2 separate regions of the Homo sapiens genome follow, and region 1 is linked to region 2. The links come from fine-mapping of genetic effects on gene expression. A gene starts in region 2. The other region holds a variant in brackets. All regions are shown on one strand. Distances are between the middles of the regions. Region 1 has its middle 44 kb from the start of LINC02693. Region 2 holds the start of LINC02693 (long intergenic non-protein coding RNA 2693).

Region 1 (9,461 bases), 45 kb before region 2:
ACTGAGGGGAGATGAATTGAGGAAGAGTAGGATGGAGGAAACACCGGGCCTGCCTGAAGGTAGATGCCAGACAAAGGGAGGAAAAGAGAAGCCTGAGAGGAAGAAGCAGGCACAGATCAAGGAAGAGAAGCACAAGAGTGCTGGCCCAAAGGGCAAGAAGTGTCCAGAAGAAGGGGGCTACAGAAAGGTCAAGTTAGATAAAGGCCATAGTACACTTATCCAATGTGGCCACCAGAAGGCCAGCTGGTCAAGGGTGTTGCTGAAGGCAGAGGACAGTGGGTCAGGAGTGAAGGTGAGGATGCAGATCGAGAGTGTAGACAACAGGCAGAAGGGGAGAGAGATGGTGTGGATAGAGGGGGTGTAGGGTCATAGATGGAAATATCCCCAAATTTAGGTGGATGGGCAGGAGATCATTGCTGAGAAGGGATCTCTTAAGAAAGGAGAGGTGGAGCAGAACAGAGGGGGCAACGATGTGAGGGTGGCAGTGACACAGGGTCATTGGAGAGTGGGGACACCTGTCTGTTGGGCATCGGCTCATGGCTTAGGGCAGGTTACTGGGCAAGCCCACAGACCCCTAGAAGAGAGGAGCTCCTGCCATGTATGGCGCAGTCTTGTCATTCACCATGCACTCTAATTTCACATATTGAGTACTTGGTATGTACTGGTCACTGTGTTGGACACAGGGGACATAAAATATGGTAAGACACATTCCCAAAGGGGCTAACAGTACTGTGGCCTCTTACTCAAAGGCTTGCACCCAGGGTTAAGCTTCTAACAAGTTGGAAGGCAGACATAGACACCTCCATTTGCCTTGAGTACAAACAGATGTTCAGAGAGGTTTAGTGACTGGCCGAAGGTCATGCTGCCAGGAAATGGCTGTGTCTAGGACAGTTCCAGGTCTCCTGCCCATAAAACCCACCCAGGCCACCACGTTCAGTTTCAGCCAGGTGGCCATCAGGGTTGACCACCCTGTTAGACTCGGCAAGAAGAATACAAGCCAAAGGCAAGCACATGCTCATTCTTCTGATCATCCTCTGTGTGCCCAGCCCTGTTGTGGGCATGGGCAGCAGGGAAGGAGACATGAATTCCAAATCGTGACCTTGCCATCTGCAGCTGAGGGTGTAGTTGGAGAATTTGATGTCCCAGGAGAGGGATGTCTCCTGTTTCCTGGCTCCCTAGGAGAGGGCAGAAAGCAAGCCCTCTTGAAGGAGAGAGAGGGTGGCAAGGGGAAGGTAAGCAGGGACAACTCTTCCCCTCCCTCAAAGGAGGCCACTCAGGAATCCCAGGGAAGCCAGGCAAAAGCCCGGAGAATAAAGGGGCCTCTGAGCCTCCTCTCCACTGCTGCAGTCCTGACTCGGGGATTTCAGGGTGCAGTCATCAATCCCGCCTCAAAAGGAGAAAGCCCAGGCCAGTGGAGCCTGGCTGCTGCAACTTCTTATACGAACAGCTCTGGAGGCCCCACATCTGAGCTGGCAGCCTGGACTGGAAGGAGCTGGGACCCCTTGTTCCTCCTCCTCTTCTGGGAACTGTGAGTGAGCCCTCACCCATGAAGGACCAGGAGAGGGCCACAGCAGTTTCCTCACTCTCTCCCCTCCCTCCTGAACTTCCACCTGGTCCTCCCCTTCCCCCATCCTATAATCCATCCAGTGACCCTTCCTCTCTGGATCCAGGCCCTGCACCCACTTCCTAGGTCAAACTCCAAGGGCAGCCCAAAGTCACTGTGATTGAGAGAAAGAAACTGACTTCAGGACAGACCCATCTGTTCTACTCCGGGGCCAGCTGGGGGCCTTTGGAAAGGGAAGCTGGTATCAGCAGGAAGCTGAAGCCAAGTTGAGGGGACTCCAGTGAGTCCCCTTGCCTGTGCTCCCTCCTACAACAACTCCCCCACCCCCAAGCTGGAGAAGCCACCCTGGGTGGTTCAGCTGGATTACGCCTGGCCCAACCTTTCCCTCCCCTGACTCACCTGCAGACCCAGGCTGACCCAGAAGCCCTGCTGCCTGTCTAGTGTCTGACCTCTGAGAGAGCAGGTTCTTGGGTCTCCCTCCATCTTCACTTCACATTCCTGTCCACCAAGAGCTCTCTCCATCCACCCCTCCCTTCCCTTCAGCCCCCATGGTCCTCTGGGGATCTCCCTGAAGGCTGCACCTGTTATTCACCTCTTAGTCCCTGGCTCCCTGCAGCCTGCAGGGGCCTGAGATGGGCACCAGGACAAGCTCATCTGCCCTGTCGCATCTTTCCCCAGCCACAGCAGTTGCCCTCATTCTAGATGGATTTTCTCTCCCCTTCCTAGAGCTGACTGTGTCCAGTAGAGGGAGGGGTGGGCATTAGTATGGAATGCCAGCCTAGATGGATGGTCAGTGCCAGGCTCCGGGACATAGGAAAGTCCATGGTCATGACCAGGAGTAGCTGATCACCAGGAATGCAGTTGGGGCTCCATGCCCGAAAGCTAGGGAGACTCAGAGCTGGATCTGGGCCACAGAGTGAGGGGACAGTGGCTGTTGGTTTATATTGAGGGGGAAATGGGGCTGACAGGACTAAGGCCCTGGGGCTGAAGGGCATAGGAGCTCTTGCTAAAATTTAGGAGGCTCTGTTTGGAGGAATCTAGTGTTGATAGAATTTCCAGAGCTGCTGCCTGGGCCAGGTAAGACCCACGGGACCCTTCTGTCCAGCTTAGGCTCCTGGTGGGTGCCTACCCTGTCTCATCACCTTCCTCCTAGCTAGAGGTCCCCTATGAGGCATGAAGGTGGTGGGGCAGAGGCCCCTGTCAGGGCCTTCATGTCTGCCTGGCGGCTGGACCACCTGGCCGGAGAAAGGAAGCCGAGGTAGCAGAAGGGCCTGCCTGAAGATCCTCTGAGCCTTCCTCCTCCTCTTCTACTCCTTGGCCCAGGTGGTTGTATAAATTACTATTCACCCTATAAAAATTGTTTAACTACATCATAAATATTTGGATAATGGGGGAAATCTCAATCTGATTACTGTTAGCATTTTGGTTTCTTTTCATTTATTCTCCTTCCTATGTGTGTGTCTTGGGGATTTCCCATAAGGGCATCGCAGAGTACTGATGATTGTGCATTCTGCTTTTTCACTTACCGTATTCACCTAGTCAGCCAGTGTCAGCTGCTGTACTGTACCAGGCACTAGAAACCAATAAAAAAGTGTGATTCCTACACTCAGGTAGCTTATTTTCCAGGACATATTGGCCATCAAATCCAGTTAGGATGTGGTATGCAGATATGATATCATATGGTTATGATATGATATGGTACATCTTCAAGAAGCTGTGTCAGGGACATGATGGAGAAGCCACTCTCCCAGGATCTTGTCAGCAAGAGGGAAATCCAGGAGTGCTTCCCAGAGGAGGAAGGTGTTGACGGAGGTGAATTCTAAAGGATTCTACAGTTCCTTCTCATGAAACCGTCTGGACCTGGTGCTTTTTTCAGTGGCAGATTTTTTTCTCGTCAGTGGTAATTAAGTTTCTACTCATTATCTAGTTCATTAGGGGCACTTTATATTTTACTAGGAAAGCATTCATTTTCTCCAAATTTGTAAACTCTCCACTTTTAAAATTTATTATGAATTTCTTTGTGGCCAAATGATTTTTCTAAGATTTTCATAGACATAGAAAAAATATATATTTTCTATTTAAGGGATATAAGGTCCCATATATACCAAATCAAGTTTTTGGTTATTCAAACTGTCACTTCTTTTGTATCCTTTGGGGGAGGAGGCTTTTACTGTAGTTCTAACAGAGATTTAGCCTTCCACTCAAATTTTGTCTATAAATCTCTTCTTTTACTAGTTTTTGCTTTTTGTATTTACTATGATGCTGTGGGGAGCATGCAGATTTTGAGTGTTCTCTATAATTTTCTCTATAAATTTTCTCTATAAATCTCATCTTTTACTAGATTTTGCTTTTTGTATTTACTGTGATGCTGTTGGGAGCATGCAGATTTCGAGTGTTCTCTCATTACGAATTGTGCCTATCATTACATGGTGTCCCTCTTTATCCCATTTCAGTGCTTAACCTTAAATTTCACCCTTCTATTATTATTATGGCCACTCTTTATTTTACTTTAGCTTTTGCACTTTCCTGGTATCTCTTGGCATTCTTTTATTTTCCACCATTATCATTGTTTAAGTGTTTTTCTTGTATATATACATCACTGGGTTTTTTTGTTGGTGGTGGTGTTGATTGAGACAGGGTCTTGTTCTGTTGCCCTGGCTGGAGTGCAGTGGCAACATCACAGCTTGCTTCAGCATTGACCTTCTAGTTTGAGGTGATCCCCCCACC[T/C]CAGCCTCTACAGTAGCTGGGACTACAGGCATGCACCATTACACCCAGCTAATTTTTTGTATTTTTTTTTCTTTTGGAGAGACGGGGATCTCACCATATTGCCCAGTTATCACTGTATTTTTAAACCCAAGCTGACCTTTGTCTTTTAATGGGAATTCATCTGTTTACATTTCATTATACAATTGATCTACTGTAGTTGATTTTATTTCTTCTGGCTTATTTTACATTTATTGGTTTACCTTGTGGGTTTTTTCCTCTGGTTATTGATCACTCTAGTTATTAATTTCCTTTTTCTAACCTTGTTACTCTTTCCATTTCATTATTGGCATCTACCCCTTCTCTGGAGTTCCTAATCAAACACATATTCTTTAGCATGTGATTCCATGGGGATTTTTTTTCTCAGCACTGTCATCTGGAGCTCCAACCTGTTGGTCTATAGACTCAGGTCTTTCTTTCTGCTTCAGTAAATCTATGTGTTGTTTGATTTGATTGTTGTTTTTGTTGTTGTTGTTTATTTTCTCTCTTCCCCTTTCTCCTTTCTTTTCTCTTCCATTTTCCTTTTTCTTTCCCTTCTCTTCTCTCTCTTCTCTTCGTTCTCTTCTCTTCCTCTCTCTTCTCTCCCTCCCCTCTCCTCCCCTTTTCTCCCTTCTCTCATCTTCTTTTCTTTTCTTTCCCAGGATCTCAGTCTGTCACCCAGGCTGGAGTGCAATAGTACAATCATAACTCATTGCTGCCTCAACCTCCCAGACTCAAGCATCTCTCCCAACTCAGCCTCCTCAGTAGCTGGGACTACAAGTGCATGCAAAAACACTTGGCTAATTTTTGTATTTTTTGTAGAGACAGGGTCTCACTATGTTACGCAGGTTGGTCTCAAACTCCTGGGGTCAAGCGATCCACCCACCTCAGCCTCCCAAAATGTTGGGATTACAGGCATGAGTCACAATGCCCAGCTCATTTAATCTTAGTTTGTGTGTTAATCATTTAACCTTCATCATTCCCCAAATCTCTCTTTAAAACTACCTTATAAAGATGTAAATCACTATAACTCTTATGTCTCTTCAACTTTTTTATATAAAGTGACAACTCAAAATACACTTTTCCATTTAATGTTATTTAATAAAAACCATTCTATTTTTTATGCTAGTATCTCCATTTGGCCATAAAACAATATATCTAGAAACAAAGTGTGAGCTTCAACAGAAACAATGATCTACTGTTTCTATCAACTTTTTACTATCCATAACCCTTCGCTTCCCATCTATCTTCCTCAAACAAATTGAAGTTAATTATCAACTTGAAATTTCTAGAGCTTATGCAACTTCAATTCATTTGTCTTTCCCTTGCTTTATTCAGCTCTACTGCCAAAATTACAACCTTGGTTAAATGCAACTGTCTGTGTGTCTAATCCTTGCCAGCACCCATGCAGCTGAACATGCCCAAAAGAACAATATAGCAATGATTTTCAACATTTTATATCCAGGCCAGAACTCTCCCCTGAGTTTCAGATTTATATGTTTAAATGCTTACTTAACATCTCCAATTAACTATTTAATGGAAATCCCAAAATTAATATATCCACAACTGTCAAATTCTTCACCTACATCATCTCCCATTTTACAAAAATTCCATTTTTTCCTAATGAATATTTACCATAGTCATCATTTTGCTCGAATATTTCCTCAAAGTGGTGCTTACCTTAATCGTATTACTAAAACTTTTTCTAAGCACTTCATTTTTCTGCCCTGCTTTGTTTTCCTCCTTAGAACCACCTGATGCACTGTATATTCTACTAATACACAGTTTGTTTCTCTTACCTGCTAGAATATAAATTATATAAGACCAGCGATTTTTTACATCATGTTTACTTTCCAATGCCGTACCAAGATCAGTAACCGACACTGAAACAAAGGTAGATTATTCAATTTTTTAAATGTGTCCTGTGGATTACTAGAACTGCAAAACTCACTTCAATAAGTCTACGACAGTTAAAAAATACATTCATGACACCTTATCTTCTTGGGGAATTACAGTGATTTCTAGTTTTTAAAAGTAAGAAGACATAAACTTCAGTTTGAAACCAGGACTCATCATCCCATAGTTAGAGTTGGACTTCTTTGTGTGCTCAGGGACTACAGAGAGGTCAGGGGTGTTGGCCTCAGCCTCTTTGACAAGGGAAGCGGGCACTCTGTGAGCTCAGGACCCCTGTCCCTAGCTAGCCTGGATGATGGCAGAGTCTGGCTCAGCCAGGTCCCTGGCCTGCACAAAGCCAGTGGCACCAGGTGAACATGCCCAGCTCAGTGACTGCCTGGAGCAGGTGTGGGGCAGCCAGACCCAGTGGGTATGGGCTTGGGAGCCTAGCCGCAGAGGATGAGCAGGACAGGGGCAGTCAGACAGCCCTTAGAAGGCCGCCATCCCTGAGCTGCAGGAAGAGATCCCCTCATCCAGCTCCTCCCCAGGGTCCCACTCTGGATCAACAGGAAAATGTAGCCCCTCAAGTGGTTGTGCATAACTGGACAGATGGGAAACACGCAGCTGAAGGCCATGTGGATAACCGCCTGCTGGTATCCCAGTTGACATCCCAGTACCACATATCGCTGAAACCCAGGTCACCACATCACCAACTGTCAAGTCGATGTGAACTGTTGATTGTTGACGAGTCCCAGGATCTTTTCTGCTCTTGAGCCTGACCATGAGGTAGTAGATGCCAAAGTCAGGCAAGGATTGCCAGGCCTGATGGAGGCACAGATGGGCCTGGTCGGTAAGAGCCAGGCCACATTCTGAGGGCTTCCAGGATCCGTGGGATGAGCTGCTTGGCCTTGAACTTTTGTGGAAGTGCAGGGTTGGGGGTGTGGAGGGAGTACCAAGACCACAGAGGCTGAGGCCCCTGACAACGGCGCCACTGCCCTGGGGGTGGTTGCCGAACCCGGTGCCTGTCTGCTGGAAGGCCTGCACCTCGCTGGCGGCTGTTCCCTGCACGGTGCAGCCCCTCCTGGGAAGCCAGCGGCAGCCCCTGCAGCATGCACCCGGCTGCTTCTGCCCCGCAGGTGGGGGTCGCTTGCCTCCGGTGAGTTGGATGCAGAACTCACAGCCAGAGACACTAACACCAGAAATGCCGTCACAGCCCTTGAGGTTGAGCTGCCTAGGGTGTGGGGCAGGTGTGCACTGGAGCGTGGCCTGGCTCTCATGGCAGGATTGCATGGGTTCCTTGAACAGCTCCCAATGCTGGCCTTAGCCCTTCAGGGTCAGCTTCTGGGGCTGGGAGATTTGGGGACACTCCTTGACTTATGTGACAGTGGCCAGGCTTCCAGCCCTTCTGTGGGTACCTAGCCCTCCAGCTTCTCCTCCAAGCTGTTGAGGGCTGCGTCCAGGCCATCCAGCCGAGTATCCACAGCTGGCTTGCCCATCTCCCCTCTCTGAGACAGCCTCTTTCCATAGGACTGCAGGGATGAGACACCATCAACCCCTCCTAGATGCAGCCCAGCCCTCCAGCAGCAGATCTCACTGAACAGCTCGCACAGCGGGGTCCAAGCCTTAGAAGTCTTGGGGCTGAAAGCGCAGCCAGAGGCGCCTGGCCCTGGCGCCCCGTTAAATGAGGCACGGCAGGTACCAGAGCCCTCTGTGTAGCAGGGATTCGTCCAGCGGGCGTTGGACCCTGGCGGGCGAGGGAGGGTCAGGCGGCGTCGGTCACCGGCTCAGCAGGTGGTCGCAGGCCTGGGTTGGCCACTGTCCCAGAAGTGAGCCAGCCTCCCCGGAAGAGCGCTGGAGCGAAGCTCCCCGCTAGGACCACCTTGGTCAGGTTGCACACCTCCTCGTCCGGTTCCTTCTAGTCTCAGGGGCTGGAGTGGGGCTGGAGGCAAATGAGCCCCACCTGCGGGGCAGGAGCAGCTGAGTGCATGCTGCAGGGGCTGTCACTGGCTTCCCAGGAGGGGCTGAACAGTGCAGGGAACAGCTGTCAGCGAGGTGCAGGCCACCCTTGGCCTTTCAGGAGACAGGCTCGGGACTCAAGCAACCACCCCCAGGGCCTTGGCGCCTCCGTCAGGGGCCTCAGCTTCTGCAGCCTTGGTGCTCAGGAACTGGAGTGGAGCCAGCTCCGGGACGCCGGGCACTGTGGAGGCTGTAGGTGGCGGCCGCGGCCCAGAAGCACTGACGAAAGCGCCTTGACAGATCAAGTCAAAATGTTACCGAGGGCCGGGCGCGGTGGCTCGTGCCAGTAATCCCAGCACTTTGGGAGGCCGAGGCGGGCGGATCACGAGGTCAGGAGATCGAGACCATCCTGGCTAACACGGTGAAACCCCGTCTCCACTAAAAATACGAAAAAAATTAGACGGGCGCCATGGCGGGCGCCTGTAGTCCCAGCTACTGGGGAGGCTGAGGCAGGAGAATGGCGTGAACCCGGGAGGCAGAGCTTGCAGTGAGCCGAGATTGTGCCACTGCAGTCCGGCCTGGGCGAAAGAGCAAGACTCCGCCCCCCAAAAAAAAATGTTATTGAGAAGGCCAGTTCATTCTCTAGGATGCCAGTGGCAAACAAACATGAGGATGACCAGGGAGACGAGGATTTTGAGTGCTTACTTTATAAAGTGTCTATAATATCTGCAGCAGAAGAATTTAATGGCAAGTTGTTCAGAAGATAAGCCTGGAAATCTTAAATGTCCTATACTCCTTTTTAATTATATTGTATGTTACATACTCTTTGGGGCAAGAATGATGGAGATTATGGAAGTGGAATAAGGGCTTTCCCTCTCTGTTTGCTTCAGACCACTTCTTTGTTACCATTATCACAATTGGTACAGTTAGCTGGATGTTGTGCTAAACACATTAAAGACATGTTATTGGATGCGCATTTTAACCATATGGGATAGGTTTTATTAACAGGGTGTGAATATGGTTCAAACAATTTCCCCAGAGTATGTAATGGATTAGCCAACACTAGTCTGTTTTCCTCCCAAGCCCTCTTGACTATTATTATATATTCTTCCCATGAGAGACCAGGAGATGCCTAAAGAAAGGGATCGAGGGAGCAGAAGACGTTTTGTGAGGAGGAGATATCTGAATGGTACTTCAGTATAAGTTGCTACACGGTTGTGTGCTATGACGTCTATCCACAAATAACCCAGTTTACCCCATAAAACCTTCAACCAACTTTCATGTCTCAATTTTTCTTTGAAGTATT
Region 2 (9,461 bases):
GATAAAGTTGGCCACCATTTTCTTGAAATAATGTTTTCCTTTGGCTTTGTGAACATCATACTCTCCTTTACTGGTTGCTTTTCAGTTTTTTTTTTTTTTTCTGCTTCCTCTTTACCCTTCTTTATTTTTATTTCAATAGGTTTTTGCGGGGAACAGGCAGTGTTTTGTACATGAATAAGTTTTTTAGTGGCAATGTCTGAGATTTTTGTGCATCCATCACCAGAGCAGTGTACACTGTACCTAATGTGTAGTCTTTTATCCCTCGACCCCCTCCCACCCTTTCCCCCAAGTCCCCAAAGTCCATTGTATCATTCTTATGCCTTTGCATCCTCATAGCTTAGCTCCCACTTACGAGTAACAATATACAATGTTTGGTTTTCCATTTCCGAGCTACTTCACTTGGGATAATGGTCTCCAATTCCATCCAGGTTGTTGCAAATGCCATTATTTCGTTCCTTTTTATGGCTAAGTAGTATTCCATGGTATGTATGCGTGTGTGTGTGTATATATATATACACACACACACACACATATATATACACACATACATACATATACACACATACATACATATACACATATATGCCACATTTTCTTTATTCACTCGTTGATCGATGAGCATTTGGGCTGGTTCCTTATTTTTGCAATTGTGAATGATGCTGCTATAAACATGCATGTGCAAGTATCTTTTTCATGTAATGATTTATTTTCCTCTGGGTAGATAACCAGAAGTGGGATTGCTGGATCAAGTGGTAGATCTACTTTTAGTTCTTTAAGGAATCGCCACACTGTTTTCCATAGTGGTTGTATTAGTTTACATTCCCACCAACAGTGTAAAAGTGTTCCCTTCTCACCACATCCACACCAACATCTATTTTAATTTTTTGATTCTTTTATTATGGTCATTCTTGCAGGATTAAGGTGGTATCGTGTTGTGGTTTTGATTTGCATTTCTCTGATAATTAGTGAAGTTGAGCATTTTTTTCATATGTTTGTTGGCCATTAGTATATCTTCTTTTGAGAATTGTCTATTCATGTCCTTAGTCCACTTTTTGATGAGATTGTTTGTGTTATCCTGAACAGCTACAATTCTTTGGCTTGTTATTTTAGTGGTTGCTTTAGTGTTTATAGTGCATGTCTTCAACTGATCACAGTCTACCTTCAAGTGATAATATATCATTTTAGTATAAGAAACTTACATCAGTATACTTCTTCCCTCCTAGTCTTTAAGCTATGACTGTCATCCATTTTATTTTACATGTTGTAAATTCCATAGTACTTTATTATTTTTGTTTAAACAATTATATTTTAAAGAGGCTTAAGTAATAATAACAAATCATATATTTGTCCATGTTGTTACTATTTCCAGTGTTCTTCATTCCTTTGTGCAGATCTAGATTTCAATATGGTATCCTTCTTAAGGCCTAAAAGACATCCTTTAATTTTTCTTGTGGTGCAGGTCTCCAGGTAAGAAAGTCTTAAGTCTTTACAAGTCTAAAAATGTCTTTATTTCTTCATATCCATTATTCTCTTTTTGGTAGTATCTAGTTGGCTGTGACACTAATCCATTAAACTTTCCATTTCAATTATGGTATTTTTCAAATCTAGATTTCTATTTGGTAATTTTTCCCAATCTACTTGGTTATTTTCATACTCATGCTCTTTAATCCCCTTGTTTCTTTACATGTAAGACACACTTTATGTGATGTTTGGTGACTCTAATATCTTAAGTCTCTGTAGGTTTTCTCCTCTGTACATTGTTTCTGCTGGCTCTTGCCCATTATAAATGTTTGTGATTTTTGATTAAAAACTTACATTCCATGAAGCTGTCTTCCATTTTGCTTTTGCCAGGCACCTGGAAGGCATTAAAAACCTGATGTCACTTTAAATTTGCAGCTTGAGACTTTTTAGATTATACAGTTTGTGTGTGAAGCCACCAGTGGAAGGGCTGCCCATGGTTATATATTAATGTATCCTCACTCTCAGGAGGGATGTTTTCCCTCAGGATGGATAATCTTGTCTGCTGCTCCAGGGGCTGCAGGGATTGAGGGGGCAGGAGACAGGGGAGGCAGACAGGTTGATTCATAGTTCCCTCCTACACTAAACCTATCTTTTTGGTGTCCTACTTTTTTTTTTTTTTTTTTTTTTTTTTTTTTTGAGACAGAGTCTGGCTCTGTCGCCCAGGCTGGAGTGCAGTGGCGCAATCTCGGCTCACTGCAACCTCCACCTCCCGGGTTCACGCCATTCTCCTGCCTCAGCCTCCCGAGTAGCTGGGACTACAGGCGCCCGCCACTACGCCCGGCTAATTGTTGTATTTTTAGTAGAGATGGGGTTTCACCGTGTTAGCCAGGGTAGTCTCGATCTCCTGAATTCGTGATCCGCCCGCCTCAGCCTCCCAAAGTGCTGCGATTACAGGCTTGAGCCACCGCGCCCGGCTGGTGTCCTACTTTTGATGTCTTCTGCTAACCGTCCTACCTTGGACAGGATCTAAACTTTGTCTGCTATTCTGCTGCCCCATCCTCTTCCCAGACTATGAAAAGAGAGTTTCAGTATGACACTTGGCAACTATCTTAAGGGTGAAAAATGGCATCTAATTACTTCTTTGGGTTTCTACTTTCACTTTTTAATTTTAATTTTTTTGCCTTTGCGAACTCTTAATTATTTTGCAGCTCATTGATACATTTTTTAAAATGGTTCTTGATATGTATTCCAGAAGTTTTTGTTGTTTTCTGGTTCTTGTCAGCCCATGTTGCCGGAAATAAAATTCTTTCAACTTGTTCTTTAACAATTTACAGTATCCATATATTCCTTCCTGTTCTAGAGGCAATAGAGTGAGAACACACACTTAGGAGCCAAGCTGGCCTGAGATTAAGATCCACCAGCAATGTGACCTCAGTAGCCTATTTACATTCTGAGTCTCATAGGGTTGGTGTGATAATTAAATGAGGTAATATATGAACAACACTTAAAACAGAGACTGACACTGGTAAGGATGGACTTTCTTGTTATTACTATCTGAAAAAGTTGAAAAATTATGAGCCTGAGTAACAGTTATACATCTTACCCAATGGTTCACTAACCTCTGGTCCCTGGCTACCCCGGCCCCCTCTACCATGCAGTCACCCACACCCATGCTTATACTGATGGAGAGGAGTCAACTATGAGCTATTCACTGGATGACAAGCCCAGCTACTGTCACAGGTGCACCCCAAGTCCAGGACAGAATGCTAGCAGATAGCTGCTGGTCTGAGAAATGTCATCATCATATAAGCCTGAGTGAAAACACAGCCCCTTTACTACTAAGAAATCTGAAAACAAACAAACATAAACAAACATAATTTTAAATTTTGTATTTTTTATGATGTCATTTGTCCCAACAGCCATCTGACATCAATAGCCCTGATTACTAAAAGTCTCAACGTTATAGAAATGTTCTCCTCCTTTTTGAAAACCATGTTCATTTTTCCCCCACGATACAGCGCTATCTGCAAAGCCTTGAACTGATAACATAGCTCAGGGGCTAACTCTTGTCTTAGCAGAGTAGCAGCTGAAAAAAGAAGACAATTCTTAACAAACAGGGAGATCAGGAATGCTCACTTCTAAAAACATTATTTATTCAGGGCAAGTGGTATTTGTGACGTGCGAATGAAGCTTAAACTTCAGCTTTAATTTATAAGAATTAGGAAATGCAGATTAAATCTCTGATGCCATATTGTGAATTCAGTAAAGGTTAACTAATCTACGACGCAAAGACAAACGTTAGCTATCCTACGCTTATTATTCTGGAAATTTAATGAAAATTAAACAAGAAGACTCACAGAGTATAAGAATTGTCCCCCCGCCTTAACAGTGTTGTTTTCAGCCTCTGTTGCCTGAAACATTGCAGAATAATTCAGATTTTTTTAACCCCACCTTTTTATTGAGTAAAACCAAAGTACTAAACTAATAAATGTGAAAAAGGATGTTGGGTTTAAAAAGAAAAAGCCTCAAGACATCGAGCCTCTTAGATATTTTAAAAGTGAAGACTGAGAAGGAACGCACTGTTGCTAAACAGAATTATAGGATTATGGTCAATTTATAATCTTTTCAATATGGGATTTGAATGTTCTGATATTAGATACCGTGTACGTGCTTTATTTATATAGTACCTCCCGAGAAGAAAAAAACCAGTATTGGTTTATACAGTATTTGGCATGCTATTCACGTATGCAGTGATGTATACGATGTCAGAGCTAGAAAATAGCTTAGATACGATTTGGATTCAGCGCTGGGCGGCTCCGCCCCCGCCAAGCCCCGCCCCGTCCCCTCAACCCCGCCCGGCTCCGCCTCGTCCCCTCCGCCCCGCCCCGTCCCCTCCGCCCCGCCCCGTCTCCTCCGCCCCGCCCCGACCCCGGGGCATGCGCTGTGCGCCCGGCCGGCGTGGCTGGCTGTTTGAGGACTGCGCGCGGAGCTCCGTGGCGGGTGTCTGAAGTCGTGAGTTTACTGCTTGTAAGGAACATAGCGATCACTGGGAACCTGGAAGTAGAGACTCCTTTCTGCCATCCATCCGTCCCTCGGGCTGCTGCGAATCCCCCCGCCGGCCTCCAGGACCCCGGGCTGACTGAACGCCCGCACCGGTCCCGCCGCCCCAGGGCCCGCTACGCGCCCGGCATAATGGGAGAAAAATCACGACGGAAAGGCCCAGCCCCTCGCCATGCAGACGGGAAGCTTGGCCGCACGTGTGATCACCCTTACGCCCCTTGGAGTTTCACCCCCTCTTCGCGGGCTCCAACAGCCTGGGTCAGGCCTCCTTGTCCTGTGTGGGCCTCTCGGCTGCAAGAACACAGTCCCGAGCCCCGGCGAGCCCGCGCGCCTCCCACCCGCCGTGCACAGGCTGCACTTTACGCCCCAGCACTGCGCCTGCGGGACCATCTGGATCGCTTTTCCATTCTGATGACGTCCTGTACTTCGTGGCTGCAGGCTCCTCAAGCCCCAGGTCTGTGCAGAGACGAGCAAAGCAGCAGAATATCCGTGCCACAGCTTTCTGGAGCACCCATTTTACTACCAGATTTGGAAGGAACGAAGTTAAGTAATTTCCAAGGTAAGTAATTAAAATTTTACGATGAAAAGGCTAGAAACTCTTCTGCTGGTAATAACTGTCAGACATATCTGTGCCTGAAATGTCAGACTTTTTCTGAGAAAAAAACTGAAAACTTGTTTCCCATTATTTTAAATAGGAAAAATTATAGGGCACAACAAGTCAATAGAAAAAAACCTACCAATTTCCTAACTCACAGTGTGGCAGTAGGTTTAAGTTGCACATAAGTTAGGATGTAAAATGCTTAAATGTTGCCACTTGGTCACCCACATTTGATATGGTTGTTAACATGCATTTGCCTTGGATGCAGTAGCTGTGCGACCAGCAACATCACACGTGAACCTCCCCTTTGTCAACACACCAAAGCTTTTTGAAGTGACTGTCATGATCCTGATGGTCTACCAGTTGTTTCTGGAAGGAACATGTGGTTTTTTCCAGCAAACTATTTAGTTTAAAATGTTGTAATTTTTGAAAGCTCAAACATTATGTCTACAACCATCAGCCAAAAAATTTGAGACAGGTTCTTGCTCTTTTGCCCAAACTGCACCACGAAAGGGGTTCCAGCGATCCACCTGCTTCAGCCTCCCCAGTAGCTGAGACCACAGGTTTGTGCCACCATGCCTGTTAATTTCTAAATTTTTTGTAGAAACTACATCTCCCCACATTGCCCAGGCTGGCCTCGAACTTCTAGACTCAAGCAATTTTCCTGCCTTGGCCTCCCAAAGTGCTGGAATCACAGGCGTGAGTCACCAACCGCACTCAGCCTGAAAAATGTTTTGTGAGATAAATAGCTGCTATACAGTTTAGATATTAAAAACTAAGATGTGTTCTTCCAGGAAAGTTATACTTTCAGATATATTCTGTGTCACATCCTGTATGATGAAATAGATGGCAAAAAAAAAAAAAATCCCATTTAATTTAAAGATGGAAGCTGTAACTTCAAGTAAATTTGGAGCTGAGGAGTCCTTTCGGGCTATGACCCCAGAATTCTGGGGTTCTCTGTACTGATTTTTTGCTAGTGTCCACACACAAGCATTCCTTAATGCTGTGCATTAAACAAATAGACCTTTTTTAACCCCAGGTTTCTCTCCATTTACCATTCTGTTTCTCTGCTCCATGCAACTTCCTCACCTCATGTCCTCTCTTGCACCCACTCCTTTCCAGCTTTCCTCCAAGGTACTTTGCTGAAACGACTTTTATCTCAGTCATTTAGCTGCATTTGACACAGACGATACAATTGAGGAGTTCCACCCTTTCTTCTGGATTTTAGGGACCTTCCCTCCTGGATTCCCTCTCACCTTTATCCTCATCCTCCTGCTCCTCCTCCACCAGATCTCTAGTGATCCTCTCAGAATGATCCCACACAGTCTCATAGCTTTAAATACCATCCATCTGTTGATAACCACTAGGCTTGGGGCCTCTTCCCTGAGGGGAGCACCAAGAGTCATCCCTGACTCTTTTCCCTTCTCCCCCAACCCCCATGCAACCACACAGCAAGTCCTGTGGCTCTTGAGTGCAACCAGCATCCTGATTCACCATCTCCATTTCCACAACCAGTTTCAGTCACCTTCCTCTCCTACTGGGCTACTGCCAAGAATCCTCCAACCTCCCTGCATCTTGTCTTGCCCTGCTACAGTCCAGCCTCCACTCAAGCATCCAGAGTGATCTCTTGAAAATGTTAAAACATGATATAGGCATACCCCCACCCCTGTGTAAACCCTGCCACTATCTACTCATTGCAGTAGAATAAAAGCTCAGACAACCTGGTGCCTGCCTCTTCAGCCTCATCTCCTGCCCTTGCTTGTTCTTGCTATGTGGGTCAGATTTTCTGGTCTCCAGAGCTGAAAACAATCTTAACTGACAGACGTTAGATCATAGACTTTATCTACAGCATAAGGCATGGAAGGAAAAGTCTGAGAGAATGAAGGGCCAGAAAAGCTTGTTTAAAAAAAAAATAAAAAGCACAGGAAACTGGAAACGTAACTAACCTGTATGTATATACTTAAAAGAACATGGTAACAAAATGAACTCTTTAGAAACTGAGCCAACAGACTTGCAAACAAATAGAAATACCTTTGGTCCTACTCTGAAAACAAGAAGAATCCTTAGTGAGTATACAAGAACAAAAATTGTACACATTTCTGGGTCATAATGCAATAAAACTAGAAATAATCAAAAGAGAATTTAAAGATGTTCAGCTTCCTGAAAATGTTAAATTATCCTTTTAAACAAATTAATGCCTGCATCAGGGTGCAAATCCAAAACACAAATACCTTGCCTATAAAAATATATTTTTGCAAACAACAGTGTATCGGGATGTGAGGAGAGAGCTCACTGACTCAAAAGCTCCCAGAGTGACCAGATGTGTTCATGGGAACCGGAGCACTGCCCTGGAGTCATTTGACATCACCTTATTACAAGTAGGAACAGCCATGCTGGGAGATGCTCAGATGCCAGTAATAAGTCAGAGGATTCCCTCCTGAATGGGACCTCCCAGTCCTCTTTGGCACAGGGTTCCAGGCAGTGACCACAAATCCATCGGTGATGGCTTACAAGATCAACCTGCCCTCAGGCAGTGGAGTGGAAACTGGCACTAGCAGCTACAGTGGAAAAAATGAATGGCCTCTAAGAATATGTCATCTGCCCCATGCAAAGATTCTGGATCCCAGAAGTCCTCCTAGTAAGGACTCGGAGCCAGACAACTTCATTTCCTGTCACCTGGGCTGCTCTCCCTCTGACAGCTATGGAAATTGGTGAAGCACAGGAACGTATTGGAAATGGCAATGATGTGCCATGCCAATGTGTGGAAGTGTACAAGTTAAGTAATATTTTAAAAACAGAACACACAACAGTTTGCACAATCCGACCAAAGCTCTGTCATGTATGTTTCTAAACAAGTTTGGAAGAGAATTTGGAAATGGCTGAAATTTTTTTATAAAGCTTATGTTTTTAGTTTGTTTAAATGTAAAAGCATACACTTAGAAACAAGTTAGTATGTAAAAATTTTTAATCTTAGCTATCTGGAAGCTTCAAATACTTAGAATGAGGCATTTCCCAAAGGTATCTGTAACTTGAATTTTACCGTAGTTTGAAAACTCTTGCCCAGCATAATGGCTTACAGCGGTAATCCCAGCACTTTGGGAGGTTAAGGTGGGCAGATCACTTGAGCTAGGAGTTAGAGACCAGCCTGGGCAACATGGTGAAACCCCATCTCTACAAAAAATTTAAAAATTAGCTGGGAGTGGTGGCACTGCTGATAGACACAGCTACTCAGGAGGCTGAGGTGGGAGGATCCTTGAGCCCGGGAGGTCTAGGCTGCAGTGAGCCGTGATCGCACCAGTGTACTTCAGCCTGGGCAACAGTGCCAGACCCCGCCCCCTCCCCTAGAAGAAAGAAAACTATTAGTTCATAGTGCAGTTGATGAAATAATGTACATCCACAAAGAAACAAGCAATCATAATATGTATATAATTACTCAGTATTAAAATATTGTGTATAGTATTACATATATTGAATACCTATAATGAATGGGGCACTGCTTTAAGCACTTTATACTCATTATCCCACAAGAATTCTCTCTCCAGCAGGTCTTAGTATATTCAATTTAAAGGCTAATTAGTAAGCAATATATAGAATTGAATGAGAAACTACTTAAAACATAGAAGGCTCTCGAAAATACAATGTGGAATGAGTAATGCAAGTTACAGAGATACACAGCACATTTATAGAAAGTGTAAAAACTTACAAAGTTAAACAGTATATTATTTAGAGAAACAATATATTATTTAGAGATATTATTATGTAATAAAAGTATAATGAAAGTCAGGGAAATACTTTTTGTAAAGCTTCAGATGAATGATTGTCCCAGATGGGGTTACATTTCAGAAGGGCCAACCATGCAGATGGCTTCAAATGTAGTGGTGCAGGTGATGGGTACAATGTATTTATTTTACTTTTATGTGAGTCTGTGTATGTGTGTGTGTCTGTGTAATTTTGTATGTATAAAATAGTTCGTAATAATTTTTTTTTTGAGTTGGGATGTTTCTCTGTCTCCCAGGCTGGATTGCAGTAGCATGATCACGGCTCACTGCAGCCTTCACCTCTCAGGCTCAAGTGATCCTCCCACATCAGCCTCCTAAGTACCTAGGACTACAAGTGCGCACCACCATGCTTGGCTAAATTTTTTAAATCTTTTGTAGAGATGGGGTCTCACTCTATTGTCCAGGCTGGTCTTGAACTCCTAGCCTCAAACAATCCTCCTGCCTCAGCCTCCCCAAGTGCTGGTATTACAGGGTAAGTTGCTGTGCCCAGCCTAATTTTTTTTTTATTTTTAAACAGCTTTATTGAGGAAAAATTCACATACCTTATGATCTGCTAGGGTTTA

What was found.
Region 1: its variant is fine-mapped to the expression of LINC02693 in monocytes (TOPMed, PIP 0.91).

What each region holds. Positions count from the first base shown.
Region 1 is chr17:21,591,448-21,600,908 of GRCh38, reverse strand. It overlaps the pseudogene LOC100533653. Among named protein-coding and RNA genes, the nearest start is that of LINC02693, 44 kb to the right of the region's middle. The variant T/C (reference allele first, on the strand shown) is at 4,292.
Region 2 is chr17:21,546,615-21,556,075 of GRCh38, reverse strand. It overlaps LINC02693 (long intergenic non-protein coding RNA 2693), which reads left to right and starts at 4,398. Exons shown (of 2, transcript NR_160801.1): 1 at 4,398-5,080. RefSeq lists a silencer at 4,335-4,504.